Regions from separate parts of the Homo sapiens genome. Here region 2 is linked to region 1. The links come from fine-mapping of genetic effects on gene expression. A gene starts in region 1. The other region holds a variant in brackets. All regions are shown on one strand. Distances are between the middles of the regions.

What was found.
Region 2: its variant is fine-mapped to the expression of MRNIP in testis (GTEx, PIP above 0.99).

Annotation. Positions count from the first base shown.
Region 1 is chr5:179,852,527-179,863,431 of GRCh38, forward strand. MRNIP (MRN complex interacting protein) reads right to left here and starts at 6,291. Exons shown (of 7, transcript NM_016175.4): 1 at 6,205-6,291; 2 at 852-911. The coding sequence starts at 6,270. It overlaps TBC1D9B (TBC1 domain family member 9B), which reads right to left. Exons shown (of 21, transcript NM_015043.4): 21 at 9,545-10,905. It overlaps MRNIP-DT (MRNIP divergent transcript), which reads left to right and starts at 6,477. Exons shown (of 2, transcript NR_134283.1): 1 at 6,477-6,686; 2 at 7,504-8,757. RefSeq lists silencers at 5,713-5,822, 6,723-6,852 and an enhancer at 6,453-6,652.
Region 2 is chr5:179,829,295-179,840,261 of GRCh38, forward strand. SQSTM1 (sequestosome 1) reads left to right here. Exons shown (of 8, transcript NM_003900.5): 6 at 3,738-3,952; 7 at 4,293-4,488; 8 at 7,142-8,784. The coding sequence ends at 7,299. MRNIP (MRN complex interacting protein) reads right to left here. Exons shown (of 7, transcript NM_016175.4): 7 at 7,982-8,591. The coding sequence ends at 8,097. Among named protein-coding and RNA genes, the nearest start is that of SQSTM1, 14 kb to the left of the region's middle. RefSeq lists enhancers at 7,475-7,769, 7,551-7,700. The variant G/A (reference allele first, on the strand shown) is at 5,298.

The sequences.
Region 1 (10,905 bases):
CTCTGTTCTCACGGAACTTACAGCCTTAGATGGACAATCCGTGCATAAACACATGACTATGTAACTTCCATAGGATACTGAGAAGAGGGAGGGGAACTCCACAGTGAGCACAAAGGCCTGAAGAGGGAGCAAATTTGGGTTTAAGGTCAGAAAGAAAGCACATGGCTGTAGAAGGAGAGGAAAGATGAGAGGTGAAGGGAGAGGTGGCACTGGGGCTGGAGCAGGAAAAGAGCAAGTTCAGTAAGGCAAAGGATGCAGGACAGTTTGGGGTCCTAGAGTTCAGGAGGGGCAATACGGATGGACTGAAAAGACGTACTGAATGCCAGCTGCAAACAGCTGGATGAGAGCATTTACAGCCTGCCCCTGCCTGCCTCCACTTCCTGAGCCCACTATCCCACACCTCCACCTCCACCAACGGCCTCTGCCCTTCCCCGGCTGCCCTGATTCCTCTGTCATCTTCTCACAGTCCCCAGTGCTTTCCTTTCCTTGTGCTCAGCCGAGTTTTAAATTATGCAGATGCATGTGTGCATTAGTTTCTCTTCCCCTTCCACACAAGTGCATCTGTGAGGGCAAGAATGACAATGGGCTTACTTTCCACTGTTCCCCTTGTGCTTGGCACACAGAAAGTACTCAAGAAATACTTGCTGAATGAAGAATCAAATGGCAGTACCTTTCCAGATTCTGCTCCATCCATTTCACTTCCTGAAGGAACAGGAAGCTCGGAAGCAGGAGCTCCGTGTCTGGGGAACTCTGTTTGAGAGAGGATGATCCCAGCTGTGGCATGCTGGGACTCCCTGGAAGGGCTCGCTGCAGGCCTGCGCCCCACTTGCTTTCTGTTTTGTAGGACTCACCTGCAAAAAGGACTGCTTCTCTCCACAAGCTTTGCATGTCCACTTGACACTCTTTTTTACCTGCAATGAAATTTCAGAAATACAACTCAGATAATTATTTAAAACAAAATGGAATTGGGCTGGACTCGGTGGCTCATGCCTGTAATCCCCCTTTGGGAGGCCGAGGCGGGCAGATCACAAGGTCAGGAGTTCGAGACCAGCCTGACCAATATGGTGAAACCCAGTCTCTACTAAAAATACAAAAATTAGCCAGGCATGGTGGCGGGCACCTGTAATCCCAGCTACTCAGGAGGCTGAGACAGGAGAATCGCTTAAACCTGGGAGGTGGAGGTTGCAGTGAGCCAAGATTGCACCACTGCACTCCAGCCTACACGACAGGGTGAGACTCCATCTCAAAAAAACAAACAAACAAACAAAAAACAAATGGAATTGGATCTGAAATTTTTTTTTTTTAAATCCCAAGTAGCTGGGATTACAGGTGTGTACCACCACGCCCAGCTAATTTTTGTATTTTAGTAGAGATGGGGTTTCACCATGTTGACCAGGCTGTTCTCAAACTCCTGACCTCAAGTGATCCACCTGCCTTGGCCTCCCACAGTGCTGGGATTACAGGTGTGAGCCACCATGCCTGGCCTGAAATAATTTTTTTTTTTTTTTTTTTGAGACAGAGTCTGGCTCTGCTGCCCAGGCTGGAGTGCAGCGGCGCAATCTCGGCTCACTGCAAGCTCCCCCTCCCGGGTTCACGCCATTCTCCTGTGTCAGCCTCCCGAGTAGCTGGGACTACAGGTGCCCGCCACCACGCCTGGCTAATTTTTTGTATTTTTAGTAGAGACGGGGTTTCACCGTGTTGGCCAGGATGGTCTCGATCTCCTGACCTGGTGATCCACCCGCCTCGGCCTCCCAAAGTGCTGGGATTACAGGCGTGAGCCACCAGGGCTGGATCTGGCCTGAAATAATTTTAAAAACTGATGGAAGGAGTCCAGAAACAAACCAAAGCATGTGTAAACATTTAGCGTATCATAATCATAAAGGTGGTACTTTAAAAGTGAGAAAAGAACAGACTATTTAACAAGTCCGGGTTGGTGCTGGGAAAACTGGCTATCTGTATGAAACACAATCAAATTGGGCTGGGCACAGTGGCTTGAGCCTGTAGTCTCAGCGACGAGGGAGGCCAAGACTACTCGAGCCCAGGAGTTTGAGGCCAGCCCGGGTAGCATGGCAAGAGGCTGTCTCACAAAACCAAATCCAAACAAAACAAAACCACTCTGAAAGACCCAAATTGAAGCTGTAAAAAAAAATTCCATAATATTCCTGTCTCGCAAAACCAAATCCAAACAAAACAAAAACACTCCGTAAGACTCAAATTGAAGCTGTAAAAAAAATTCCATAATATTTAAATTCTTGTTAAACTTGGGTCTAAAAAAAATTCCGTAACATTTATTTTCAATTCTTGTTAAACCTGACTAGATGTGTTCTCTCTTAACATATAAAATGCCTAAAACCCACTCTAATGCTGGAGAATCTTTACCAGCATTCCACATGGAAGTCAAGAACAAGCCAGGGTTGCCCGCTATTATTTACCATTTTTTTCTGGATGTACTAGCCAATGGAATTAGAAGAAAGTTGTAAGATGTATAAAAATTATAAAGGAGCGGAAAACCCTATCATTATTTATAGACATAATTATAATACCTGAAATAACTCCTGACCTCAAATGATCTGCAGACCTCGGCCTCCCAAAGAAAAGCCAATTTTTTAATTTTAATTTTAATTTTAATTTTTTTGAGACGGAGTTTCGCTCTTATTGCCCAGGCTGGAGTGCAATGGTGAGATCTCGGCTTAGTGCAACCTCCACCTCCCAGGTTCAAGAGATTCTCCTGCCTCAGTCTCCCAAGTAGCTGGGATTACAGGCACGTGCCACCACGCCCGGCTAACTTTGTGGTTTTAGCAGAGACAGGGTTTCATCATGTTGGTCAGGCTGGTCTCGAACTCCTGACCTCAAGTGACCCACCCAAAGTGCTGGGATTAAAGGCATGAACCACCAGCCCGGCTGCTACCTGACATAATTTTTTATCCGAAAACCAACATAATGAAATGAGAAGCCACTAAAACCAGATAGTCTAATACAGTGGTTAGGTACAAAATTAAGATACCTTCAAAAATTAATATAGCTTTTATATGAGCAGACATCTAATTAGAACACATAATTGATAAAGAGTCCATTTATAACAGCAACAAATAAAATGTTACCAAGGGATACCAAGGTTACTTGAAGAAACGTAATGGATCATGTTTAACACCACAAAGATGTCTAGGTTGATCCATTAACATTAATACGATTAATATGATCCTAATACAAAATCATGAGGTTTTCGGGGGAAGTATCCAAAAGGATTCTAAGGAGGACAATGAGCACCTACCAAAAATTGAACTGGGTAATGACTTAGCAATTTTACTTCTCAGCTTCTACCTTAAAACACCAATAAAACTGTGGATTTTCTATGAGTATATAAACAAGTAAGAAAAGTTGTTTTTTTTTTTTTTTTTTTGAGACAGAGTCTGGCTCTGTTGCCCAGGCTGGAGCACTGTGGCGTGATCTCGGCTCACTGCAACCTCTGCCTCCTGGATTCAAGTGATTCTCCTGCCTCAGCCTCCCAAGTAGCTGCGATTACAGGTGCCCGCCACCACGACCTGTATTTTTTGTATTTTTAGTAGAGACGGGGTTTCACAACATTGCCCAGGCTGGTCTCGAACTCCTGACCTCATGATCTGCCCCCCTCGGCCTCCCAAAGTGCTGGGATTACAGGTGTGAGCCACCGCACCCGGCCAAGAAAAGCCTTTTTAAAAGTTTAGGACTCACAGAACCTGGTAAAGGAATTAATTGTGGGAACTGCTGAGATAGTATGGTTCTGCCACTCCCTAGATGGAGAAACCACTTGATTCCCGTGTATTTCGGAATTCTCATGTCTCTAAGATGGGAATGATGCCTAAGTCAAAGGTTGTTGAAGTTAAACGTGTTAAAGTAGTACACAGCCGACTTGCAATTAAAATTAAAGTAGTACATAGCCGACTTGCCGTCCTCTTTGGTTTCAAGTAATTTTTCTTTGTTTTTGAGACAGGGTCTGGCTGTCGCCCAGGCTGGAGTGCAGTGGTGTGAACACGGCTCACTGCAACCTCTACCTCCTGGACTGAAGCGATTCTCCTGCCTCAGCGACCCTGAGTAGCTAGGACTACAGATGCGCGCCACTACATCTAGCTATTTTATTTTGAATTTTAGTAGAGACAAGGTCTCGCTACGTTGCCCAGGCTGCTCTGGAACTTCTGAGCTCAAGTGATCTGCCCTAGTGGGCTTCCCAAAGTGCTGAGATTATGGGCGTGAGCCACCGGGGCCAAGCAACTCACATTTCATAAGGTTGAAAATGACCACGAGGGTCAGGGGCGCTGGCTCACACCCGTAGTCCCGGCACTTTGGGAGCTAAGGCGGGAAGAACACTTGAGCCCAGGAGTTCCAGACCAGCCTGGGCAACACGGCCGAAACCTCATTCCTACAAAAAATATAAAAATTAGCTGGGGATGGTGGCCCACACCTGTAGTACCAGCTACGTGGGAGGCTGAGGTGGATCAGCTGAGCCCGGGAGATGCAGGTTGCAGCGAGCTGTGATTGTTACCACTGCACTCCAATCTGGGCGACAAAGCGAGACCTTGTCTCAAAATAAATAAGTAAATAAATAAATAAATAACACTGGTGAACATGGAAGAGTGAAACAGGAAAACAAACAAGGAAATAGAGGCCGGGCGCAGTGGCTCACACCCGTAACACCAGCACTGTAATCCCAGCACTTTCGGAGGCCGAGGCGGGCAGATCACGAGGTCAAGAGATGGAGACCTTCCTGGTCAACATGGTGAAACCCCGTCTCTACTAAAAATACAAAAATTAACTGGGCTTGGTGGCGCGCGCCTGTAATCCAAGCTATTCGGGAGGCTGAAGCAGGAGAATCGCTTGAACCCAGGAGGCGGAGGTTGCAGTGAGCCGAGATCACGCTACTGCACTCCAGCCTGGCGACAGAGTGAGACGTGAGACTCTGTCTCAAAAACAAAAAAAGGAAATAAAAATAAACGGAAAATTTGTTTTTAAAAAACAGCATGAAACATTAGACGTGGAATAATTTAAAAATGCAAATGATCTCCCTTTATTTGCAACTCTTAGGACCCAGCTCCCGAAAGAAAATAAGTAAAAAGTTTCTGAGCCCTTAAAATGGCCCTTACAAACGCTTAGCATTAAATGCAAGCTTACAGACACATACTCAGCATCTTGCTGACTTTTTAACATACCTCTTAAACAAGTCTGATCCACGCCGGGCACAATGGCTCTCGCCTGTAATCCCAGCACTTTGGGAGGCCGAGGCAGGCGGGTCACCTGAGGTCAGGAGTTCGAGACCGGCCTGACCAACATGGAGAAACCCTGTCTCTATTAAAAACACAAAATTAGCTGGGCATGGTGGCGCATGCCTGTAATCCAGCTACTCGGGAGGCTGAGGCAGGAGAATTGCTTGAACCTGGGAGGCGGAGGTTGCGGTGAGCCGAGATCGCGCCATTGCACTCCAGCCTGGGCAACAAGAGCGAAACTCCGTCTCAAAAAAAAAAAAAAAAGAAGAAGAAGTCTGATGCTATTCTTTCTCAGGGCATAGCAGATTACCAATAATTAGGAGGGAGGGACTATCAGAAGCAGATACGGTGACTGCAGTGTTAAGTGATATCAAGCAGGGAGACAGGTGCGATCCGGAAAAGGTTAAGTGGCATTCTCTATCTGGCACGCTGAAAGTTAGGGAGGCAAATATGTCCTAGAAACACAGATTATCTGTCTTTAAGACTCCGGGGCCCGTGGTTTATGCGTCGGCGAACAGCCATATCAAGTCCCTGGCCCCGCGGAAACGGACGGCGGCAGAGGCGCGGGGCGACGGAGAGGGCGCCCAGGTGTGGAGCAGGGACGCCGCCGCGGCGCGCTCGGTCTCTAAGAACCGTCCTCCCCCTCTCACTGAAACTGCGACAGCGCTACTTCGTGGGGTAGGCTCTGCGTAAAGGATGCTATACTCAACCGGATTCTCCCACTACCTGCTACAATTCACAAGAGGCCACCTCCGCAGAACCATTACCTCTGGTTTGTACAAGAACCAAACAAAAAGCTCAGAACGTTATGCGGGGGCGACCCCAATGAGACCCGCCCTCAGCGGTCCCTGCACTCCTTCGGGCCCGGTGCATCCCGGAGCCATTCGAGACAACACCCACAGCCCCGCCACTCCCCGTCCGCTGTCCCCGCGCCGGAGGAGGAGGAGGGGGCTGGCACCCGCCAGACCTGGTGCGCCTGGAAGAGGCGGCAGCTGCAGCAGCGTAGCACCCGAGAACGCTGAAGCGACGCCATCCCTGCTTGTGCAGTCGCCAGGCAGCCAAGCGCGTGCGCTCTGCATTTGTCCCGCCGCGGCCCCGCCCCACGCACGCGCTCCGAACCCTCTAGTCCCCTACGCCGTCTCGCATGCGCTTATACTCTTCGCTCCGGCCGCCGCGGCCCCGCCCCTGCGCACTGGGATCCCTCTAGCCTGCCGCGCCTCTCGCTGGTCATCTGCGCCCCTCCGACCTCGGAAAGAGTCCTGGGTGCGGGATTCCTGGTAGCCGACTCGTCGTCTGACCAGGGCCGTGCCCGCATCTTCCTAAGGCACTGGTTCCGGCCCTGGGGAGACTGGAATTGAGACGACAGGGCCTCCGCTGACCAGTCCTTGGACACAACGCGGAGCGGGGCTGAGGGGCCGCCCTGCCAGGCCTGCGCTGCCGTGCTTTTAGGTAGCAGCGAACAGTTAGCCTTTGAACCGGAGCCCGGGGTGGAATACGGGGAGACGGAGGGGCTCACCACACCCACGCTTCCCGGAGAGGGCGGCGGAGGCGCGCGGCCGCCGAGCGCGAAGCCGGTCCCCCTGCAGCCCCGGGAGCGTCCCAGGCCCACCCTACGGAGGGTGGAGGCGCCCCCGCAGCCCGACGCTCACGCCGCAACCCTGTGTGGCTTAGGGTTGTAACCTCGTTGGAAAATAAAATACAAAAAATATTAAAATTACCTCCCACCGTACAACCCTCGGTGTCTAGGGTTGTAATTTTAATTTTTTTTCCAACTTTTACACAGTGACTATCACCAAAAAAGCGAGGTGTTTTTTTTTTGTTTTTTGTTTTTGGAGACAGTCTCGCTCAGTCGCCCAGGCTGGAGTGCAGTGGCGTGATTCTCCTGCCTCAGCCTCTCCAGTAGCTGGGATTACGGATGCCCGCCACCACGCCCAGCTAATTTTTGTATTTTTAGTAGAGACGGTGTTTCTCCATGTTGGCCAGGCTGGTCTCGAACTCCTGACCTCAGGTGATCCACCCGCCTCGGCTTCCCAAAGTACTGGGATTACAGACGTGAGCCACTGCACCCGGCCGACACTCGCTTTTAACAGCAGAAACCATCCCGTTGAAGAAAACACCCAATCCTGACAAGGGTGCAGGGAGGGCTACCCCTCTGACAGGGTGCTGGGAGAACGGTCAAGTGCAAAACCGTGGAAAGCAACCTGGCAATACTGCTACCCCAAGAAAGGAATCCCTTCACCTAGGTGATTTATTATTCATTCCCTAGTGTTCCCTGAAGAATACTAGGAAGAAATGGAAATCAGTGTTCTGAAGAACGGCACGGACTCTTAGGCAGTTCCATCAGCAAGAACCTGAGTTTGAAGTGACAACGTGCTGTGGAGAGGCAAGGTTACAGAATTACAGTACATCGTTTGACTTCTGTGACACCGGCATTATTTTCTGGCGTGTGTGTGTGTGTGTGTGGCTAAGGTCGTAGGTAATGCTAATTTTTAAATTTTTCCAACTTTTGTACAGTAAGTAGTTAGAAAAAAAAATTGAGAGACAATATGCCAATAGACAATGGTCAGATAACGAATGACAATAAACTGACTGCAGCCTCTGCAGTAACCGGGCAGTCGGCTGCTTGGGAAGGACGTGGTCAGGACTGCTTGCTCCTCTATTTTTTGTACCACCCTCCCCATGTCAGAACCAACCCAAGAAAGCGCTCCCCAAACCAGTCACAGAAAACATCCTGCTTCTTGTTAGCTCACCTCCAGTTTCCAACAGCCTGCGGTCAGAACCACCTGGAGCCTTCCCCGTTTTCCACCCCCTGCGTCCTTGCGCCTACCCACACCGGGGATGTTGCTGACTCCCTTGCTGTAGCAAGCTCTGAATACTGTTTCTCATTTGGGTGGTTTTCCTTCATTTCTACGTTTGAGCTACTGTGGCTGAGAACAGAAAGCATCTGCAAAAAATGTTTTATGCTTAATGAAAGGAGTAGAATAAAAATTTCATATATGACATCAGTTAAACTCTGAAAAAAAATACAGAATAAACACCAAAATACTGAGTAATCTGTAGCACTAGGAAAAATTGTTCTACTTTTCTGTATATTTTTCTCCTTTTGGCAATGAACCGGTAATCCTTTAAAAATTCATGTATATAGTTTTTTTTCTTGGAAATTATAAGAATGATTTGATGAGTGGTTTGATGCAACTTATATTACTTGGTAAGCAGTTTTAAAATATTCATGTTTACTTATAAAATTTAAATTTTTTATTTGTATTATCTATATATTATTTAATGTTACTGTTCTGGTTGTTAAACATTTTGAGTTATCTTCCCAGGTTGAATGATTTATGGATTAAAGTACTATTGTACATTTTCGTACATTGTATCACGTGAATAGGCCAGATTCCTCTTTCCTATTCTTTGGTTAATTTCTTTGGTGTATTCACAAGCTTATACTTCCATATATTAAAAACATTTATCTTACCTCTGTAAAGACAAAAAATGGGAAATAAAAAGCCATTTATCCAAATTCCAAGTTATTCAAATCTAATTGAATATAATCAGTGTAAGACTTAAAATTGCCAAATATGTGGGGTTATTATATCTTAATTATATTAAGGCCAACAATGGTCTTTTTGGTATAAATCATTTGAAATTATTTTATGGTACTTTGTGTAAATACTAGAAAGGAAATTGAAGCCAGGCATGCTGGTTCATGCCTGTAGTCCCAGCTACTAGGGAGGCTGGGGCAGGAGGATTACTTCAGGCCAAGAGTTTGAGGCTGCCATGAGCTATGGTCATGCCACAGCACTCCAGTCTGTCTCTAAAACAAACAAACAAGCAGACCGGGCATGGTGGCTCACGCCTGTAATCCCAGCATGTTGGGAGGCCGAGGCGGGTGGATCACGAGGTCAGGAGTTTGAGACCAGCCTGGCCAATATGGTGAAACCCCATCTCTAGTAAAAATAGAAAAATTAGCTGGGCGTGGTGGTGCACGCCTGTAGTCCCAGCTGCTTGGGAGGCTGAGGCAGAAGAATTGCTTGAACCCAGGAGGCAGAGGTTGCAGTGAGCTGAGATCACGCCACTGCACTCCATGCTGGGCAACAGAGCAAGACTTGGTCTCAAAAAACAAAAAAACAAAAAAACAAAAAAACAAAGCTACTTAATTAAAACAAAAACAGCAGCCACAGAGATATACAATAGTACCTGAGTTTCACCTTCTGCAGCTTTAGTTACCCAGAGTCAACAGCCACCTGGAAAAGAGATGAGTACAGTACAAGAAGATATTGTGAGACAGACCACATTTACAACTTTCATTACAGTATAACCGTTACATTTTATTATTAGTTATTGTTGTCAATCTCTTAAGGTGCCTAATTCATAAACTTAATCACAGGTATGTATGCATAGGAAAAAACAGTATGTATAAGGTTTGTTATTATCTGTGGTTTTAGACATCCACTGGGGGTCTGGTTTTAGATATCCACTGTATCCCCTGTGGATAAGGGGGTAACTGCTGTATCTTTTAGTAGAAGCAAGAGCAGCCCCATGTGGGGGCTAACACTGGACACTGGTCAGTTTCAGCTCCTCATGCAAAGTGAGGGTATCCTTGTGGCTCCAGCCCTGGGGCCCCCTGCGGTCACCTTTGGCTCCACAGTCTGGTTCTTGAACCCAAGGGCAGACAGCTTGCTACAGCCCAGGCCTGAGGATGCACTTCCTTCACCAGGACCCACAACCCCTGCCCATGAAGACCTGTGGAGCTCAGGGCATCCCCTGATGCAGGTTGGTCAGGACCTGCCCAGCTTGCACCAGCAGGTTCTGCGTCTCCATCTGACCTGGCAGACCTTGCACTCTTCCACCCACTGTGGAGGACTAAGTGTCTTGAACTTCCAGAACACAGCCAGGGCCCCATACTTGGCCTGGGGAGAAGTTGGGAGGCCTAAGCAGTGGTTGGGGGCCACAGCAAGGCATTGCACACAGTGGTTTTTATTTCTTTCAGGGATTTATTAAGGCATTGAGCACAGTGTAATTTCTAGCCAAGTGAAATGAATCCAAGGAAATATATCAGGACCTGAGGGATGTTTTTTTAAAGTTACTGGAAAGGATGATGAGCTGAGAGCACGTGTACAGCCACGCCTGTGCGCAGCGCCCACTCTGTGCAATAAACATGTTCTGCCCATGTTCCTCAGTCAGGAGGTTCAGGCTCCCGGAGAGCACCTGAGGGTTCCATCACTTTGGTGCCCAACAAGCACATGCCCCCCAACCTGGTGCCAAGAGGCAGGAATGACCCCCATACCACATAGCTGCAGGAAAGCATCCACGGATGGAGGGACTCAGCTGGCCTGGCCGCAGTGTGGAGCACAGAGGTATGAGGCAAGCAAGGGCAGATCTGAGAGCCTGTAATGCTAGGCAGGTGCAGCTGGTGCGAGGCGGGCTCCCACCAGGTGTAAGGAAGGTGGGAGCCACAGCCTCTTCCTGGGCCCAGAAGCAGCCGGCGCCAGGAGATGCAGGCCCAGGGAATCTGTCTAAGGCAGCTGGGTCTGCACCAGCCTTCTTTCCACTCACAACTCACTGCTCCTGGGAGAGCAGGAGGGGCACACCTTTAAAGAGAAACTGATAAGGGAGGAAAGGCAGGAGGAGATGAGGCCAGCCCCACTGATGACACCTTGGGCCAGGC
Region 2 (10,967 bases), 23 kb before region 1:
GAATGCCCCCAGAGAAGTGTCCTACAGCTCCTGCCTGCCAGACCCCCAGGCACCCTGCAGAGGGAAAGTTAGTGATGGCGCTGGCCCCACAGAAGGCTTCCTGTCAACCTTAGTGCTTCAGTGGGATCAGACCCCTGGGTCACCAGCCATCTGAGGAAAGCCCCCACACATGGGAGAAAAGGTCTTAAAGGGAAGAGAATGTTAATGTCCTCAGTGAGATACAAAAGAGCATTGTCTGCATGAAAAAGGAACAGGATACTAGAAAAAGGATAACAAAGGGAACAGAATAAGAAAGTTCTTAAAATTAAAAAATAGAAAAAAAACTTCAAAAGAAGGCTTAGATTCTACTATTGTCTCAAGGAGATATTCCAAAAGCAAAATAGAGATAGTTTTTTTATCTTTCCTCTCCTCCTAATGTAGGAACAAGTCTAGAAGCCCAATATAGGATGAGTAGGAATTCCAGAAAGAATAGAAAACTGAAAGGAGGAAATGAACATAGAATGCAAGATAGTTTCTTGGCACCAGGCATGGTGGCTCATGCCTGTAATCCCAACACTTTGGGAGACCAAGGCAGGCAGATGACTTGAGCTCACGAGTTTGAGACCAGCCTTGGCAACATAGGGAGACACCATCCCCCACTTCCCGTGTCTACAAACACTATGAAAATTAGCCAGGCATGGAGTTGTGTACTTATGGCCCCAGCTACGTGGGAGGCTGAGGTTGGGGATGGCTTGAGCCTGGAAGGCAGAGGGTGCAACGAGCCTGGATTGTACCACTGCACTCCATCCTGGGAGACAGAAACAGACCTTGTCTCAAACAAAACAAAACAAAACAAAACAAAAAACAAAAATGCAAGATAGTTTCTTGGCAATGAGGCCATTATCTTCTAGATTGAAAGCGGCCCTGACAATGACTGAGAAAGACCCCACAGCAAAGCTTATCATTGTCAAGTGTCAGAACCCTGAGGATAAAGAAAGAGGGGCTTCTAAAACTCTAGGTTATTGTAAATACTTGGGAATACAAAGAGCAAACAAACATGAACAGCTAGGAGACAATGGAACAACTGATGACTCCAGAAATCAGTTAAAAAGGCTTTTCGGCCTAGAATTCTTTTGTTTTTGAAACCGGGTCTCACTGTCATCTGGGCTGGAGAGCAGTGGTACAGTTGTCTTCATCTCGTGGGCTCAAGTGATCCTTCTGCTTCAGCCTCCCCAGTAGCTGGGACTACAGGCATGTGCCACTGTGCCTAGATATTTTTTTTTTTCTTTTTCTTTCCCCACCCCCGAGTCAGAGTCTCGCTGTCGCCCAGGCTGGAGTGCAGCGGCGTGATCTCAGCTCACTGCAGTTTCCACCTCCTGGGTTCAAGCAATTTTCTGCCTCAGCCTCCCGAGTAGCTGGGATTACAGGCACCCGCCACCATGCCTGGCTAATTTTTATATTTTTAGTAGAGATGGGGTTTCACCATCTTGGCCAGGCTGGTCTTGAACTCCTGACCTCATGATCTACCTGCCTTCGTCTCCCAAAGTGCTGGGATTACAGGCATGAGCCACTGTGCCCAGCCCCGTGCCCAGCTATTTTAAAATTTTTTTGTAGAGATGGGGTCTTGCCATGCTGCCCAGGCCGATTTTGAACTCCTGGGCTCAAGAGATTTCTCATGTTGTTCTCCCAAAGTGTTAGGATTACATGCATGAGTCACTGTGCCTGGTCCAGCCTAGAATTCTATACCCAGCTAAAACGATCAAGTATCAGGGCAGAACAAAGTTACTTTCTGGTATACAGTCTTAATTATTTTAACCTTGGTTTGAACCACATGAAGAGAGAAACCCAAAATGAAGCACAGAGGTATTAGGAAACGGGGGACCTAACAGGACAGAGGGTGAACGTAAAGGGGGTCACAGCATCACAGCGCAGCCTCTGCCCAGAGAGCTGCCAGTCCTGGCTGGAACAGGAGGCTGCACAGCAAGCGGCACTCTCTATGGAAAACACCAGAACCAGTGGGGTCTCTGATCCACTTCACCCTTGTAGAAAACTATGGAGATGCTGTGGGAGAACATAGGGAAAGTTAGCAAATGCAAAGAGAAGGCAGGCTGGGTGCAGTGGCTCATGCCTGTAATCCAAGCACTTTGGGAGGCCAAGGCAGGCAGATCACCTGAGGTCAGGAGTTCAAGACCAGCCTGGCCAACATGGTGAAACCCCGTCTCTACTAAAAATATAAAAATTAGCTGGGCGTGGTGGCACGTGCCTATAGTCCCAGCTACTCGGGAGGCTGAGGCAGGAGAATCACTTGAACCTGGTGGGCAGAGGCTGCAGTGAGCCGAGAGATTGCGGCACTGCGCTCCAGCCTGGGCAACAGAGCGAGACTCTGTCTACAAAACAAAGGAAAAGAGAAGCCATTATCAGTGGTAGGAAAACAAAAAGCGATACAAAGAAATAGTCTGCTACTTGACCCAGCAAAGAACATTTAGATAGAGGTCCTAGCTGAAACATTGAATGTTCTTTTTTTTTTTTGAGATGGAGTCTTGCTCTGTCACCAGGCTGGAGTGCAGTGGCGCCAACTTGGCTCACTGCAACCTCCGCCTCCCAGGTTCAAGCGATTCTTCTGCCTCGGCCTCCCGAGTAACTGAGACTACAGGCGATTGCCACCACGCCCAGCTGATTTTTTGTATTTTTAGTAGAGACGGGGTTTCACCATATTAGCCAGGGTAGTCTCGATCTCCTGATCTCGTGATCCGCCCGCCTCGGCCTCCCAAAGTGCTGGGATTACAGGCGTGAGCCACTGCGCTCGGCCTACTGAATGTTCTTTTAACAAAAAATTGCGTCTTGGAAAGGGTAGTGGAAGGAGAGGCAGGTACTGGTCCAGAGTAGGAAGTGCGCAGATGTGAACTCCAGCAGCAGGCAAGAGCAGCGTGAGCTGAAAGGGCACAGGGAGAGTTTGGGGAGTGGGATGGGGGCAGGGAGTGTGCACCACAGCCTTTGGCAACTGGTGACTCTAAGCTGTGGGTGTGGAGACTTTTGACACATTTAATTTCAAAAATAGTGCAGGTGATTCTCCCCTCTGTCCCTGGTGAGTCACGTGAGCCTGGAGGTGTGCAGGTTCCCTGTGGGGCCAGCGTTGGGCCCTACGCAGCGCCTGCACGGCCCATCCACCTCCCAGAGCAGAGCTCCGGCGTTGAGGTGTGCGTGTGTGTCGTCGCACAAAGCCTCTGTGTGCAGGTGTCAGGAGGCACATGGCCTTCCATCACTGTGGCTGGAAGCGCCTGCCACATGTGGTATTGGCTCTCCCTGTACTTAGGGCCTGGCCCCACCTGCCGTGTGGCCCGTGTCCTGCATGGTTAGGAAAAAGGTCTCTTTCGACTTTCTGGCTCAGAAGCTGACTTTAGATGCTAGCTGAGGTTAATGTTTTACTGAATTGGAGAAAGAGAAAGGTCCAGTATCATGGGCCCACCAAGAATGTTTCCAGAAGCCACAGAGATTTGTAGCTGGGATATGGGGAGAAGCCTCTGACTCATGGGTTTGTATCGTCTGGTCCCATACTGGCTGTGTGATTGCGGGGTCGAGCTGGGTAGAACCTAGCACCTGCATCCACACGCTGAGTGCCACCATCCAGACACTTAGCTGCTTGTGGGGACTGAACGTTGAGATCTTCGTGAGTCTGTAGTCTCCACAGGCCAAGCTCCTGCTTGCAGGTGCATCCTTGGGGGAACTTCACGGCTTGCTCTTTCCTCCTCCGCCTCTAGGCATTGAAGTTGATATCGATGTGGAGCACGGAGGGAAAAGAAGCCGCCTGACCCCCGTCTCTCCAGAGAGTTCCAGCACAGAGGAGAAGAGCAGCTCACAGCCAAGCAGCTGCTGCTCTGACCCCAGCAAGCCGGGTGGGAATGTTGAGGGCGCCACGCAGTCTCTGGCGGAGCAGATGAGGAAGATCGCCTTGGAGTCCGAGGGGCGCCCTGAGGCAAGCCTGTGCCCCTCCCGCCACCTGGGACCACGGCCAGCCTAGTGATCTGTGGCCTGCACCTCCGCCTCATCCTCAGCACCTCTGCAGCCCCACTTACAAACCCGAGGGAGCTGCTGCTGCTGCAGTGATGTCTGTGCCATTAAAGTCACGCTGGGAACCTGCTAGAACTTTGTAGTTACTTGGTCTTTGTGAGTGGCCACTGTTCCCCCTAGACCCCTGCAGCCTTAACTGCACGTGTGCATGCGTGCTCCCCGACTGTCTGCCAGGAGCCAGGGCCATGGTCAGGCTTGGCCTGTTGCGCGTGTCTCCTGTGTGCTCATGGTGAGTTTTGTTCCAGGAACAGATGGAGTCGGATAACTGTTCAGGAGGAGATGATGACTGGACCCATCTGTCTTCAAAAGAAGTGGACCCGTCTACAGGTGAACTCCAGTCCCTACAGATGCCAGAATCCGAAGGGCCAAGCTCTCTGGACCCCTCCCAGGAGGGACCCACAGGGCTGAAGGAAGCTGCCTTGTACCCACATCTCCCGCCAGGCAAGTGAACCAAGAGGTTTTGTACATATTCCTACCTTTCCCTTTAGAGCATCCTGCCCTCCTCTGATTTCAGCGACACAAACAGAAGGATGAGATGTTCTCCACTGCAGGGCTGTCTGTAGGTGTGGGAGGTTAGGAGTTGGTTTTGTCCTATTATGTGTACCCTGAGCAATAGCGAGTAAGCTCTGCTAATGCAGTTCTGAAAATGTTTTTCTTTAGGCAAACTCCAGAGCCAGGAATATTAATTGTAGGAGTTTCTAAAACTTAACATGCAGACCAGGAATTAAGGCAGGTGTGACACAGAGAGGGGGCAGCACTGGGTGTGTCCCTACTACTCACACTCAAGTGCCGCCTCAGGGAGTGCTGGTCTGAGAGGGGGGGGGGTCATAGCCAAGATCCCTGTAGGAGCCAGGCAGAAGCCACCGTTGAAGTGGATGGTGTGGCAGGCAGCAGTGGGGGGGTGGGGGGTGGGGACAGCTGACAGAAACTCCTCATTGTCACATGGCAGCCGTGTGTAAACCAAGGTCCGTGTGCACAACCTGCTGTGGGCCGCCGCTGTGTGTCTTCTCTGCCTTAGGGCAGGGGATGGCGAGCTATGGCCTATGGGCCAAGAGTAGTTCTTATTTTTGTTTATTTATTTATTTATTTTTATTGATCATTCTTGGGTGTTTCTCGCAGAGGGGGATTTGGCAGGGTCATAGGACAATAGTGGAGGGAAGGTCAGCAGATAAACAAGTGAACAAAGGTCTCTGGTTTTCCTAGGCAGAGGACCCTGCGGCCTTCCGCAGCGTTTGTGTCCCTGGGTACTT[G/A]AGATTAGGGAGTGGTGATGACTCTTAAGGAGCATGCTGCCTTCAAGCATCTGTTTAACAAAGCACATCTTGCACCGCCCTTAATCCATTTAACCCTGAGTGGACACAGCACATGTTTCAGAGAGCACGGGGTTGGGGGTAAGGTCACAGATCAACAGGATAAGAATTTTTCTTAGTACAGAACAAAATGAAAAGTCTCCCATGTCTACTTCTTTCCACACAGACACGGCAACCATCCGATTTCTCAATCTTTTCCCCACCTTTCCCCGCTTTCTATTCCACAAAGCCGCCATTGTCATCATGGCCCGTTCTCAATGAGCTGTTGGGTACACCTCCCAGACGGGGTGGTGGCCGGGCAGAGGGGCTCCTCACTTCCCAGTAGGGGCGGCCGGGCAGAGGCGCCCCTCACATCCCGGACGGGGTGGCTGCCGGGCGGAGGGTCTCCTCACTTCTCAGACGGGGCGGCCGGGCAGAGACGCTCCTCACCTCCCGGATGGGGTCGCGGCCAGGCAGAGGCGCTCCTCACATCCCAGACAGGGCGGCGGGGCAGAGGCGCTCCCCACATCTCAGACGATGGGTGGCCGGGCAGAGACGCTCCTCACTTTCCAGACTGGGCAGCCAGGCAGAGGGGCTCCTCACATTCCAGACGATGGGCGGCCAGGCAGAGACGCTCCTCACTTCCCAGACGGGGTGGCGGCCGGGCAGAGGCTGCAATCTCGGCACTTTGGGAGGCTAAGGCAGGCAGCTGGGAGGTGGAGGTTGTAGCGAGCCGAGATCACGCCACTGCACTCCAGCCTGGGCACCATTGAGCACTGAGTGAACCAGACTCCGTCTGCAATCCCGGCACCTCGGGAGGCCGAGGCTGGCGGATCACTCGTGGTTAGGAGCTGGAGACCAGCCCGGCCAACACAGCGAAACCCCGTCTCCACCAAAAAAACACGAAAACCAGTCAGTCGTGGCGGCGCGCACCTGCAATCGCAGGCACTCGGCAGGCTGAGGCAAGAGAATCAGGCAGGGAGGTTGCAGTGAGCCGAGATGGCAGCAGTACAGTCCAGCTTTGGCTCGGCATCAGAGGGAGACCGTGGAGAAAGAGGGAGAGGGAAAGCTATATCATTCTTATGTCTTTGCATCATCATAGCTTAGCATCTACTCATAAGTGAGAACATATGATATTTGGTATCCATTCCTGAATTACTTTACTTAGGATAATGGCCTCCAGCTCCGTCCAAGTTGCTGCAAAAGGTATTATTTCGTTCCTTTTTGTGGCTGAGTAGTATTCCATGGTGTATATATACCACATTTTCTTTATCCACTCATTGCTTGATGGGCAGTTAGGTTGGTTCCACATCTTTGCAATTGTGAGTTGTGCTGCTCCAGATATCATCTTTAACTCCTTTGCCTTCTCCACATACATTTCCAAGTCCTGTTCATTCTACCTCCAAAATGTATCTTGTATCCATTCATCTCTCTCCATCTTCAATCTATTTCAATGCCCCATCATCTCTTGCATGGAGGAGTGTAATAATTGGCTAACTGGCCTGTTCTTACATTTTAAAATCAAAAGATGTGACAGGTGAAATGCCTATTTCAGTGTCCATTGATGGTTCTGCTTACACACCACCTGGCTGCCTGGTGTCGCAGTGGCAGAGTTGAGCAGTGTGAAAAAGACTGCTTGGCCCTTTACAGGGAAAGCAGGTCCACTGTGGCCTGTGAGGACGAGAGCTCTGGGCAGGCTCGGACACTGGCAGACCCTGGTCCTGGCTGGCCAAGGCAGCAGGGTATGTGTTTCGGGTCACTCACAGGGCTCAGCACCACTCCTCATGGCTTCCTTACTGTTTCGGCAGAGGCTGACCCGCGGCTGATTGAGTCCCTCTCCCAGATGCTGTCCATGGGCTTCTCTGATGAAGGCGGCTGGCTCACCAGGCTCCTGCAGACCAAGAACTATGACATCGGAGCGGCTCTGGACACCATCCAGTATTCAAAGCATCCCCCGCCGTTGTGACCACTTTTGCCCACCTCTTCTGCGTGCCCCTCTTCTGTCTCATAGTTGTGTTAAGCTTGCGTAGAATTGCAGGTCTCTGTACGGGCCAGTTTCTCTGCCTTCTTCCAGGATCAGGGGTTAGGGTGCAAGAAGCCATTTAGGGCAGCAAAACAAGTGACATGAAGGGAGGGTCCCTGTGTGTGTGTGTGCTGATGTTTCCTGGGTGCCCTGGCTCCTTGCAGCAGGGCTGGGCCTGCGAGACCCAAGGCTCACTGCAGCGCGCTCCTGACCCCTCCCTGCAGGGGCTACGTTAGCAGCCCAGCACATAGCTTGCCTAATGGCTTTCACTTTCTCTTTTGTTTTAAATGACTCATAGGTCCCTGACATTTAGTTGATTATTTTCTGCTACAGACCTGGTACACTCTGATTTTAGATAAAGTAAGCCTAGGTGTTGTCAGCAGGCAGGCTGGGGAGGCCAGTGTTGTGGGCTTCCTGCTGGGACTGAGAAGGCTCACGAAGGGCATCCGCAATGTTGGTTTCACTGAGAGCTGCCTCCTGGTCTCTTCACCACTGTAGTTCTCTCATTTCCAAACCATCAGCTGCTTTTAAAATAAGATCTCTTTGTAGCCATCCTGTTAAATTTGTAAACAATCTAATTAAATGGCATCAGCACTTTAACCAATGACGTTTGCATAGAGAGAAATGATTGACAGTAAGTTTATTGTTAATGGTTCTTACAGAGTATCTTTAAAAGTGCCTTAGGGGAACCCTGTCCCTCCTAACAAGTGTATCTCGATTAATAACCTGCCAGTCCCAGATCACACATCATCATCGAAGTCTTCCCCAGTTATAAAGAGGTCACATAGTCGTGTGGGTCGAGGATTCTGTGCCTCCAGGACCAGGGGCCCACCCTCTGCCCAGGGAGTCCTTGCGTCCCATGAGGTCTTCCCGCAAGGCCTCTCAGACCCAGATGTGACGGGGTGTGTGGCCCGAGGAAGCTGGACAGCGGCAGTGGGCCTGCTGAGGCCTTCTCTTGAGGCCTGTGCTCTGGGGGTCCCTTGCTTAGCCTGTGCTGGACCAGCTGGCCTGGGGTCCCTCTGAAGAGACCTTGGCTGCTCACTGTCCACATGTGAACTTTTTCTAGGTGGCAGGACAAATTGCGCCCATTTAGAGGATGTGGCTGTAACCTGCTGGATGGGACTCCATAGCTCCTTCCCAGGACCCCTCAGCTCCCCGGCACTGCAGTCTGCAGAGTTCTCCTGGAGGCAGGGGCTGCTGCCTTGTTTCACCTTCCATGTCAGGCCAGCCTGTCCCTGAAAGAGAAGATGGCCATGCCCTCCATGTGTAAGAACAATGCCAGGGCCCAGGAGGACCGCCTGCCCTGCCTGGGCCTTGGCTGGGCCTCTGGTTCTGACACTTTCTGCTGGAAGCTGTCAGGCTGGGACAGGCTTTGATTTTGAGGGTTAGCAAGACAAAGCAAATAAATGCCTTCCACCTCACCGCAAACCTTCTGCTAAATTGCATGACCAGGCTTTCCAAAAACAAGACATTCTCATGTCATCAGGTGATCCATCTCCTGGGGACCTTAGAATCAGGTTACCGGTGCCTACAAAAGAATTTTGAGCAGAAGGGCCTCGAGACATCGGGAAAGGGGTGCGCTGGCTCCATTCTGCTACCTCCCACCGGGGGGCAGCTCTCCAGAGCCTGCCGGGTTCTGCAGCTGCAGAGGTGGCAGCACCGAGCTCCCTGTGGGATAGGACTGGTGCTGGGGTCTGGCTTCTCTCACCCCAGGAACCAAAGATGCTCTGAAAGTTGGGTGTCGGCCGGGCGCAGTGGCTCACGCCTGTAATCCCAGCACTTTGGGAGGCCAAGGCAGGTAGATCACCTGAGGCCAGGAGTTCGAGATCAACCTGGCCAACATGGCGAAACCCTATCACTACTAAAAATACAAAAATTAACCTGGCGTGGTGGCACGCGCCTGTAATCTCAGCTACTCGGGAGGCTGAGGCAGGAGAATCACTTGAACCTGGGAGGCAGAGGTTGCAGTGAGCCGAAATCACGCCATTCCACTCCAGCCTAGGCAACAGAGCGAACTCTGTCTCAAAAAAAAGAAAGTTGGGTTGTAGGCTGGGAGCAGTGGCTCATGCCTGAATCCCAGCACTTTGGGAGGCTGAGGCAGGCAGATTGCTTGAGCCCAGGAGTTTGACACCAGTTTGGGCAACATGGTGAAACCCCCTCTTCTACAAAAAATTAGCCAACTGTGGTGGTGAGTGCCTGTGATCCCAGCTGCTCGGGAGGATCACTTAAGCCCGGGAGATGGAGGCTGCTATGAGGTGTGATTGTACCATTGCACTCCAGCCTAGGTGACAGAGTGACACCCCATCTCAAAAACAAAAGGCTGGGTGCAGTGGCTCATGCCTGTAATCCCAGTACTTTGGGAGGCCGAGGCGGGTGGATCACTTGAGGTCAGGAGTTCAAGACCAGCCTGGCCAACATGGGGAAGCCCTGTCTCTACTAAAAATACAAAAATTAGCCAGGCGTGGTGGCGGGTGCCTGTAATCCCAGCTACTCAGGAGGCTGAGGCAGGAGAATCGCTTGAACCTGGGAGGCGGAGGTTGCAGTGAGCCAAGATCGTGCCATTACACTCCAGCCAGGGGAACAAGAGTGAAACTCCTACTCAAAAAAAAAAAAAAAACAACAGTTGGGTTGTGCTGCTTACAAAGGGAAAAGCAATGTGAAAGCAGCGATAGAGTGGGTCCCTGCAGCACTGCCACCCAGGCAGTACAGAAGAGGCTCTGCGGCCCTGAAACTTGACGTTGGCTTTGCCACTGAACTTGCCATGACTGCACAAAAACTGCAAGCCTCAGTTCCTCACCTTTAAAACAAAGCAACAGGCTTGAGGGAGCATGAAACACAATGATACCATTACAACATGCAGCCCAGGGACTGGCCCGTGGCAGACTCTCTGGTCATTCTTCTAGGATTTGGAGATTCAAAGCCACTTACTTACCCAGGATCACAAAACTAGTTGGCGGCAACATCAAAGTTTGAATTCTGCTTCTTGGCATGAGCCAGTGCTCTGTGCGTGGTGCAAGGCCAGCGGAGACCGACCTTGGCTGATGTGGGGGTGGGGGCAGTGACTGACGCCCAGTGGACTCCCAACTGCAGTGCCCTTGCTGTGCCCTGGCTCCTCTGACAGGCAGAGCAAACCCTGCACTCTGCAGCACTGGATATGCGGTGGGGCCTGCTGGACTGGAAGCTTCAAGAACAAGACAAATGGGCCAGGCGCAGTGGCCCACACCTATAGTCCCAGCACTTTGGGAAGTGGGAAGATTGCTTGAGCTCAGGAGTTTGAGACAAGCCTGGGCAACATAGTGAGACCATGTCTCTAAAAAATTTTTTTTTTCTGTTGCCCAGGCTGGAGCGCAGTGATGCAATCTCAGCTCACTGCAACCTATGCCTCTCAGGTTCAAGCAATTCTCCTGCCTCAGCCTCTCGAGTGGCTGGGATTATAGGCGTGCACAACCACGCCCAGCTAATTATTTTTAGTAGAGATGGGGTTTCACCATGTTGGCCAGGCTGGTCTCAGACTCCTGACCTCAAGTGATCCACCCACCTCGGCCTCCCAAAGTGCTGAGATTACAGGTGTGAGCCACTGCGCCTGGCCTCTACAAAATATTTTTTAAAGA